Linked DNA regions of Homo sapiens: region 2 is linked to region 1. Evidence: fine-mapped expression QTL. A gene starts in region 1. The other region holds a variant in brackets. All regions are shown on one strand. Distances are from middle to middle. Region 1 holds the start of ESRRG (estrogen related receptor gamma). Region 2 has its middle 380 kb from the start of ESRRG.

Region 1 (5,386 bases):
AATTCTGTGGTTTATTAATTGAGACAGAGAGGCAGATGCGTTGCTTAGCGTTAGATCTTTCTGTCTGTCCAGTGAACCACGTAACCATCAGAACTGCATCCAGACAATAAATCTGTATTTTTTAAAGATGACTTTTAATTGAGCCCAAAAGAAAGCTAGTTTGAATCTTGCGCCAAAGCCAAAAGGACATGTGCCTTGACTTCATTTAAATGCATCTGCTTTAAGAGGCTTATCTAAACGAATTATTCAAATTAGCTATAAGAAGTTAAATTCAAGGAAACTACTTCAAAAAGAAGCCTCTGGGGGATTTTTAAAGTTTGTTTTCTTTATTTATTTACAAGAGAAAGTTCAGAATCTGGGCGTGCTTGGATAAGACATTCTTCCTGACACGAAGACGTCTTAAACTCTCCAATTCTACAGCCCGAAGTACACTAACCTTCAAACTACACTTGAGCGGGCAGTCTTACCTTTGTTTATTTTTCATTTTTATTTTTACACATCTTAAGGTTGTTTCTTCCCTTGAGTGTTTCAAACTGATGCAAGCACAGCCTTATAATCTTTCAGTTCCTCCTAAATCCATCTCTTGGCTAATATTCCCTGTGTGAGCATGGATGTGGGTGGATGTGCATGTGTGAGCGTGCATACACACACACACTCACACTCACGCTCAAACATACAGGAGCAGCCACTGAGACTGCAAGTCACTTTTCATCTCTTACTTAATTACAAAGCAATGCAATATGCAGTCACTAAGGACAGCTAGTGGACATCTACCTATAATGCACTACCTCATCTTCTAGAGTTTGATATTTTCTTCACAATCTATAGAGAGAAATGTTTGCCAAGGGCACTCTTTTCAGAATTATAACAGTTGGTATTACTGTAATGTGAAAGCAAAGCAATATAACTGACTCAACAGAAAGGGAGATAAACCAGTGACAGCTCTCGTGATATACTAACATTTTATCTTAACAGTAGGTTGAAATTAAGTTTATCACCTACTCATTTACACAAAAATGCCTAACTTACTTCTCGTACCCCCTACTCACTCCCCCCCCTTTAGTAATCTAAATATATATTTCCATGTGCATAAAGATATCCATAAATACTAATTAAACTGCTTGTAAGAACGAAAGTACTTTTCTATATTTTCTGGACACAACAAACGAGACAAATCCACACTCTGAGCAGTATTTAAGGGGAAAATTTTAAAGTCACTACTGTTTCTTCTTTAGTTTTTTTTCCCCCCTTAAATATTTATAATGTGTGAAAATCTCATGTTACTTAATGGACTGATTTGTCAGTTAAGTGCTGACTTAACGCTAACCATGCAAATAACATTATTCTAGCTCAGAATTGCATAGGGCTAGCTTTTAAATTGTTCTCTGAAGGAGAATTAGTAAATGTGCAATTTTGCCTCTAACTCTGCGCGGTAAGAAATGACAAGGAGCTGAAAATATCTGTCAAACTGCAAATACATAAGAGGCCCTCAATAGTATAAATCATTTTGAATATTGTATTTTAAAACATCTTTCCTTGGGAAAATGGGTCCTAGTAAAAGATGCATTTTAACAGTTCACTAAGCATTTGTGCCAAGTGCCTATTCTTAGCACCTGAATAAGAAGTGACTGTCACACAGCTGTTTTACTGACAGTCACTGAGCTTTGCCTCAAAGGTAACATTGTAGTCAGAGAACAATTCTCGACTTACTGAATTAGGAGATCACCCTCAACACAAAAGACACAAGACAGACACAAACAAGCAGTCGTGCACACAAAATACCCAGGGCATTACCTGAATCAGTGTGTAAAGATATAGTCTGTCCGCCCCCACCCCCGCACCCCCACGACGAGTTTAAAAAGGAAAGAAAAAAGGTACCTACTCTTCCTCGTAGTGCAGGGAAAAAGATTCAGGAAGGCAAAGTTCTACCGAATCCATGTGCGACCGGCAACCATTATTTGTGCACCCCAGCTATAAATCAAAGTTTCCTTGACAGAGCACAGTGCAATTAACACAAATGTTCTCCTAGTGACAAGCCTATAGGCACAGCCAGTTGGGACCAAAGCTCTCACACTCTCCTAATCAAGGACTTAAAGCCCCGATTGGAGCTTATTAATATGAAGTAGGGCTTTACATATGCAGTCCCACCGGCCCAGCCGCGCAGCCGATTGGGGGGCCTCTGCCCAATCAGGAGGGAGGCGACGGGAGGCTGCACGGAGCGAGAGGAGCCAGGCAGGTAGGCAGGGTGCAGAGAGCCGAAGGGGGCTGGAAACTGAGAGTGGGCAGAGAAAAAGGGAGCGGAGAAGGGAGCGATTGAAACGCTCCCAATACACACTCTCGGGTTTGATTTTTTTTCCTCCCTTCTCTCTCTTTCTTTTTTTTTTCTTCTGGGAAGCTACAAAAGAAACATAACTAACTTAACTCTCTAAGCACTGGAGGGATTTGCCTTTGATTTCTAACCTAAGATCTCTTTTGCCTTGAAAAGGAGAACTCACGCAGACTCTCAGTTAATTTGGGAAAGGATTCTGCGGAAGGTAGAGAATTAAGTTTGTCCTGCCGTTGTCTGTGTTTTTATTACACCGGGGGCCGCGGCTTATTTGGTGCTGTACTTTCTCATGTATTCCTAATCATGTCTTTTCCTGTTTTCCTGATGTATGCTGGGCATTAAAAATAATAATAATAAAGGCATTCTTCTAAATTGTTTGAGCATGTGAACTGGGATCGTCATCTCTGAGGTGGAATGCAGTTTTACACAACTACAGAAGAGGAGATAGTGACAATACAATTTGAAAGAATGCCTAAGTAAATTATATGTGTAAACCTTTCTATACCTGCGACTGTCTCTTTACATATAGATACAACGCATAGCTTTTCAAAACAACGGTAAACAGCCGCAGGACAAATTGGCTTCTTCAGTTTTAGGGGTGGGGAGTCTGAGGGCTGTGGGGGTAAATAGCGAATTAAATCTCTCTCGATGCATTTTGACAAAATAAAGACAGCATTTTTTTTTTTTTTTGTAGGGAGAGCATTACTAAACAGTGCACTAAAAGTATTCTTAATTATATGTATATATTTCAATACAAGCTTCCAAACTAGGAGGCATATAATTTTATATATGATTTTACCCAAAACATCCTGCTTTCAAATAAAACACAGTGTACACATTTGTTTCTATACATAAGGCACCCTATATGCTTTAAAAAAATCAACCCAGAAACATTTTATAAACCATCACACAGTCTGGTCACTATAAGAACTAGTTTCAAACAGATAATAATTTACAAAACTAAGAATTCTCAATCAAAAGTGTTCAAAAAAATAAAAATAAAAGGAGGATATAAGAGGACAAGTGTGTTTTTTCCTCCTTCAATTGTGTACACCGTGTCTTTAATTTCCATATAACAAAGAGTTTGCTTAGGTCCTATTTTAATCTACAGGATTTTTTTATACTAGCAAATGTACATTGGAATAGATACCAGCTATTTATGGCAAAGAGATAACTGCTACCTTATGGAGAGTGAAAAACCCACAATTTTGATATAATTCAGCTCTACTGCTTATCAACCTTTTACATCTTAAGTCCTACATGATAGAAATAGTATAATCTTTGAGATCAAAATAAATTAGTTCAGATATTCATCGTATGTTAAATTCACTAAATTAGGACTCAACTCCCTTAACCCTCTCAAATTTTCTAGGTCTTTAAAAAACCAAAACACTAAAATAGAGCAGCCACATTAAAATTCAGAATATAAAAATGACAGACATGATTTGGTCCCCCCACAGAAGAAAGCAATTTCACTGCCTTGTATTTAGCTATATCTAAGATATAGGCCTAATTCCTTTTATTTGTGTTCTAAATGCATACAAAGTTTCTAGATCAGAACTCACATAGCAAAAACTGTGCCTCAGAATACTGTATAAAAGCAGGTAGTAAAAGCTTAATTACCAGTAGCATTATGCTGTCTATATTGTTAAATGTGAACTCTGCAATTAAGATGTAAATTTGGTTGTGAGCAGTGAATTAAAAGAGCTTTGAGATGTAGAAGAAAATCCAAGCATTCTGCAGACACTGAGAGAAAAAAAAAATTGTCTATTCAATCTAAAATAAGACACGTAATCATTTTACAATTAAAAAATAAATAAAACAGGCATTTTGCAAAAGAAACATGATTTTTCTAAAATACACTCAAAGAAATATGGAAGCTAATACTGCATTACAAAGACAGAAAAACATCCTTTGATTCATATGATTACTATCGTGATTTCTGAATAAACTAAAATTCTCAGGGTAATTAATAGATTCAATTGCACATACTTTAAAAAAGATACACACACACACAAAAAAGAAAGAAACTTTCCTTCTTGGTTTGGCTATGGATATTTCTTTAAAAAATATAAATTATTTAATGTACTCAATGCATCTTAATGTACTCAAAGAATGCATTCCGATTTTGCACCGGTGCAGAATCCTGTACTGTGTTCAGTTTCTTTACATTATGCTGTGACAGAACCTCTTTATTACTCCTTTGAAATGGCTTTTTAAAGACAAGATTTGTAGTGTATTTACCGGTGGATCTCAAGTCACCAAATGTCGTACAAGTGATCTTTAATTTCCCATCATTTTCTTATTTCCCTTTGGGTACTTATTTGCCCTCATTATGATCCATTTGACTTCACTGGTGTATATTTTTAAAGATATTTAGACTCATGCGTAAGTCATTGTTCTGTGCTCACAGAGATACATGTACAAACATACATAGTGTCATCCCCACTGATTTTTCACTAACCATATTTCATCTACGCAAGGTGCAGTGTTCACTGAACTCGCTGCTTTCTGAGTGACCAGATGTGTACTAGGTTTGTAGACTTGGATATTTTCCCCTTGGGATCAAAGTATCACCTGTACAAGTCAAGGACCTAAAGACTGTACTTACTGTCTTGAATCCAGTTTAACCAATTTAAAATTTTTAAAAATCCTCTTCACTAAACTTGTGAGACAGCTTCCAGAATATTTTACAAATACACAGCTCAGTCATCTCAAGAAACTTCCCTGGTCCCAGATTTTTCTCACCTTGCAGGAGAAAACAATGGATAATCATGGGAAATAAATGTGCCATGAGTAATACTGAGCTTAAACCTTCAAGAATCTCAATTACAAAAAAAATCTGGAAAAACAAATAAACAAACAAACAGATAAACAGCCTAGGATACACATATATTCCCAGTCTATACACTTCACAATCTTACCACAAGGAGTCTACCCAAATCAAGAAAAACTGAACCAAACAAAAGGATCTCTCATGATTGCTTCACAAAGAATATTAATAAATTAGTTAATATCAGTCTATTATGCATCAGGCTCTTGGTGTATGCATAGTTTCAA
Region 2 (5,386 bases), 380 kb after region 1:
TGCGACCCTGGGCAAGTCATTCAACTTCCCAGAACCTGGATTTCCTCTTAGTAACTGCCCTATCATCCTCCAACAATCCTCAGGTAACGATCCTTAGAGCACTGGTGTTTACGAGTCGCCAAAGGGGTGGATTGACTGAACCCAATCACATGTTTAAAAAGCCATTTCCTTGATTAACTTCCTCCAGGATGACTCCTCCCACTGTCCTCCCCATGACAGCCCACTGAGGTTAATCTCTCCTTTGTCTCTACTTCCATCCACAAACTGATATCATTGTATTTATGCTTTAATTATTATTAATATGACTGTCTTTGCTGCCTTTTGTGTAAAAGATGTTTTAGTTATTTTTTTATTCCTAGTGCCTAGCACACAGTAGATGCTCCATAAATACTAAATGAATAAACAATGATCAAGGAGAACATTTGCCTGCATCTGTTCCAATTCTCTGAAAATGCTTAAGATGAATTGGAAAATGGAAAAAAGCTGGGCTAGCCTTACTGCTAGGCTGTAGGCTACATACAGATGCTTTGCTTAGAAGGCACCTCTCCAGCCTGGGCAACATGGCAAAACCCCATCTCTACAAAAATTTTAAAAATTAGCTGGGTGTCGTGATGTGCACCTGTAGTCCCAGCTACTCAGGAGGCTGAGGTGGGAGGATCAGGATTGCGAATAGGGCTGAAGTTTTGGATTCCTATCCAGAACATGACAGTTCTTTACACTTTCACAGACCCATGAAGCTTATCCCTTCTCCTTCAACCCATGAGGATGAGGCTGCAGTGAGCTGTGATCTCACCACTGCACTCCACCCCCTCTAAAAATTAAAAAAAAGGCACCTCTCTATTATAAAACTCCTAAATTTACTGTTTACTCTTATGTGTACAGTTCTTGTAGGGAATAAAGTCTGTCATTTCCCAATCAGACTTAAAACTCAAAGGCTGACTTTCCGGGCAAGAAAATAACACTGACTTCATTTGACACTGATATGTAAATGCTCAATACCAGGCTTTGCCAGAAAGCTAAGAAAAAGAAAATGACAGCAGGAGAAGCCACTGTAAATGTAAAGGAGGGCTGCACAACCGAATGTCCTGTTTTCAAATTCCTGAGGAATTTTCCTAAGCTCTCATTGATTGTGTATTTCACTTTCAAAATGGAAATTTTATAATATTTAAGTATCGGGGTTATTGGGAAAGTTAAATGAGATAATGCATGTGATGGCATAATCCCTTGTCAAAGTAGGCAGCTGATAAAAGCAATTCTCCTCCCTCTCTTCCTTTCTTTCTTCCTAACTGCTTACCTTCCCATAAGAAAAGAATCAAGTTCATCGATTTGCAACCATGATCAATTTGTAAGTATTTCTTTTGGCCAGGCTGCTTAAAAAAAAAAAAAAAAAGATGATCTCAGGGATTAGTTTATGACCATGGTTCCTAAACTTTGCCACACATTGGAATCACTTGGAAAGCTTTTTAAAATCCTAATGCCCCAGTCACACCCCATAGCAATTAGTCAAACATCTGAGGGTGGGAACCAGGCAATAGTATTGCTTTACAATCCCCAAGTGATTCTAGTGTGCTTCAAAGTTTGAGAGTCACTGGCAAATGTAGGGAAATGGGCCTGTGGCCAGTTAATTTCATGGACTGGAGCCTGATGCAAATAAGGCTGAAGTGTTGGATTCTTGTCCAGAACATGAAAGTTCTTTACACTTTCACAGACCCATAAAGCTTATCCCTTCTCCTTCAACCCTCCATCAGCAAGCTCTTTATAAATGAACCCTAGACAGAGTCATCACAGTGAATTGACTCTCTGAGTACCAAAAAGCAAGTGAAAAAGTACATCATAAAACACTCATATTTATGGTATTTTACCATTTAGAAAGTGCTTTAACACCTGATTTTATTTACTCTTTACAACAAGCCTGCATAGCTGGCATTATTATTATGCCCAATTTATAGATGATAAAGCCAAAAAGAAAGCTTAGCTTGCTCAGGGACAAAGTGGCACATTCCAGTCTCATACTGAGATCCGGGATTCCAGAATCGATGCTCTTTTCCTGGAGCCCCTCAGAAGCTCCACTGATGATGGGCAAGTAGGAGTGTATCCACATTTGAAGGTTGCTACAGAGAAACGGTCTAGCTGCTCTATCAGATTAGGAAGGAAAACAGGAAGAAAAGGAGGGTGGAAGGGAGGGAGGGAAATACTGCTCATTATGTTTTGAGTTAAACAGGTTCCTTTCCAGCAGGCTTTTTCAAATTATTTAATGTGCCTACAATCATTCTAAGTTTCCAAAACTTATTATTTCCAAAGCGATTGAACAGTGAAACCACTTTTAACTCAGCATTTCTCAGGACTAACATCCCATGGAATGTGATTTGATATATGTTGCCATGGTTTTCCTCAGCTCCCTCAAGACTTTGTTAAAGTAGCACCCTCTTAGGGAGGACTACCTATGTCACCTGATTTAAAACAGAAACATCACCTTGCCCGCAGCCCAGTCCTCACCTACTTTCCTGCTTTATTCTTTTCCCCCATAGCCCTTAACACCTTCTAATACACTTCATAATTTACTCATTTATTTTGTTTACTGTCTCGTCTTCTATGTCTGTAAGCTCTATGAGGGCAGGGCATTCTTCAGCTATTTGTTTTTACATGGTGATATTTCCAGAACAGAGAAAAGTGCCTGGCACAGAGTAGGTGTTCAATAAACATGGAGTCCTAATGAATGACTGGATAACAAGAAATGTGCCAAGAAAGAAATGCAAATGAAGGCATCTTCTTCACAGTTAGGTGCCCTTTGAAAGTATCTTTTCCAATCCTACTTATCCCTCATGATGAGCTAATGAAGTGGATATTATTCCTACCTTATAGAAAAATAAAGTGAGAATAACAACAATTAGACCTGTGAGCAGAGCAAAAAAAAAAAAAAAGTCAAGTAAAAAGATGGTTACATTAGAATTAATTCTTTTTAATTTTCTATGTAATTATTGTGGGATAAAGCACATGTGCTAGATATTTCCAACAGT[A/T]TCTATGAAATCTAATATAATGTGGATAGCCATGAATTGTACCAAGGACCAATACATCAGCCCAGGATGCTATTTTCTAGCCACCAACACCAGACCAGGCTGAGATATAAAAATTCAGAAGATCTCTGGTGCAAAAATGGTCATCATTGTCTGGATTCAGATTCTCCATCAGTGAAACCATGATTCTGAGAAACATTCTCTAGAGTTCTAACGGCAGCCAGACTGTAACACAGGTGTTAGTTGGATCCTCCCCACAATTGTACAAGGGCTCCACTACACAATAACAATGCTTTGCATCCAGGTGGAGCTTTTCTCTGTAAAGGTCAAAGTGCTGTGAGCAATTCAAACATAAGCAGGGGTGATGATGGCCCATCAAGCTCAGAAAATGACCCAGTTGACCAGTTCCTCTCCAAACACGGAGAATAACAATGAAGTGGAGAATCCGTAGTAATAATGTTGGATGAATGCTCCGTTCCGTTACATTTTCTTTTTATCCAGAAAAAAAAAAAAACGCATTTGTGAAGTGAATTATTTTGGTAATGAAAGTGGTATTTATTAAACACACTAGAAACTGCAAATCCAAATAAGTATTTCCCTTCAAAATAGTCACTTGGGGAAGCTATGTAATTACTTTAGTGATCCTGAGATTGCTCTAGACATTCTGGGAATTCCTCTTTTAAAATCACCTTCATAGATGGTTTAGGACTCATACAGAAAACCAGTATCATTTCTCTAAGGCTGTACTTTATATGACAAAAATACATTTCATTCCCAAGCCAACTTGGGTGGTCAATATAGTCAAGATATCTTGTTAAAAGCACAGCATGCCAGGCTGACCCCAACACTCTATAATAGGTCAGGGCTGGAAATGGGAGTTTGTCTTTGAATGATGGATCACCCCAGGTGATTCTGTTAGGTGCCCTTTGACAGTATCTTTTCCAATCCTACTTATCCCTCATCTAGTTTTCTTCACAAACTGTGGGTTAGAGTGCCTTGCTGGAGGACAGGGTTGGAGGCTAAACCTTATCCTGAGCCAGTTAGTTGTATTAGCCCATTTCTGCATTGCTGTAAATACCTGTCACTGGGTAATTTGTAAAGAAAAGAGGTTTAATTTTGGCTCACATTTCTGCAGACTATACATGAAGCATAGTGCTGGCACCTGCTTCTGGTGAGGCCTCAGGAAGCTTACAATCATGGCAGAAGGTGAAGGGTGAGCCAGCACATCACATGGCGAGAGTGGGAGCAAGAGCGAGAAGTAAGAGGTGCCACTCTCTTTTAAACAACCAGATCTTGGATGAACTCAGAGTGAGAACTTACTTATTACCCCAAGGATGGCACAAAGCCACTCTCAAAGAATCGGCCCCCATGATCCAAACACCTCCCACCTTGGGGATTACATTTCAACAGGAGATTTGGAGGGGACAGACATCCAAACTATATCATTAGTCTTCCTCTACTTTATGGCCACAAAGCCTGAACCTCTAACATCTAATCATTCATTCACTGACATAGCATCTTTGGAACCCTTACCATTTGTTTTACAAAGAGTAACCTATTGGTAATGAGAAAGTCAAGCAAAAAGTGTTGACGGTTAGCCTAAAACATGCCTCTATGAGACACATCCTCTTTCTTGCCAGGTTCTTTTGGCCAACCTCATGACTTCAACTTTTTCTTTGGAGACAGAACAAAAAAGAATAAGGAGCACATGCTCCAGAATAAAACTGCCTGCAGTCAAACCCTTCCTGACCACCTAATCAGGTAACCTAAGGCAAGTTACTTAATCGGTCTGTGCCTCAGTTTTCCCCATCTGTGAAATGTAGCTAATACCTCCTAGGGATGCTGACAGGATTCAGTGAGACAATGTATATGCAATGTTTAGCACAGTGATCATAGCTTTCAACTAATATCAGTTATTATTTTTGACACATGTGTTAATGATCCTTAAATCATTAATTCTAGGTCAGAAATCTCAACCTCTTTCCTTACCATTAGTACATAGATGCCCATCAGCATTTCAAACTGATAAGATAGAAAATTGAATTAATTATTGGCCCAACTTCCTAAATGGTTCTAGCTCCTTGGCTCCTAGTCTTGGTTCAAAGTATCATCATCTGTAGGATCATTTAGTTTCCAAACCAAATCTATCTCAAATGCTTTCTCCTACCTCACTCCACCTCCCACATCAGCAAACACACACACCCACATGCATATTCATTTAGTTTATAAAGTCATGTTGATTCTACCTCAACAAGTTTTCTTTCCATTCTTGTGTGTGTATGTGTTTGTGGTTTAAAACAACATTTTATTTTTTTTTTTATTTTATTTGTTTATTTATTGAGACAGAGTTTCACTCTTGTTGCCCAGGCTGA

The links. PIP is the estimated chance that this variant, and not a neighbour inherited with it, causes the effect.
Region 2: its variant is fine-mapped to the expression of ESRRG in pancreas (GTEx, PIP above 0.99).

Annotation. Positions count from the first base shown.
Region 1 is chr1:216,721,362-216,726,747 of GRCh38, forward strand. It overlaps ESRRG (estrogen related receptor gamma), which reads right to left and starts at 2,068. Exons shown (of 7, transcript NM_001438.4): 1 at 1,883-2,068. The coding sequence starts at 1,938.
Region 2 is chr1:217,096,471-217,101,856 of GRCh38, forward strand. It overlaps a transcript of ESRRG not described here. Among named protein-coding and RNA genes, the nearest start is that of ESRRG, 380 kb to the left of the region's middle. The variant A/T (reference allele first, on the strand shown) is at 3,018.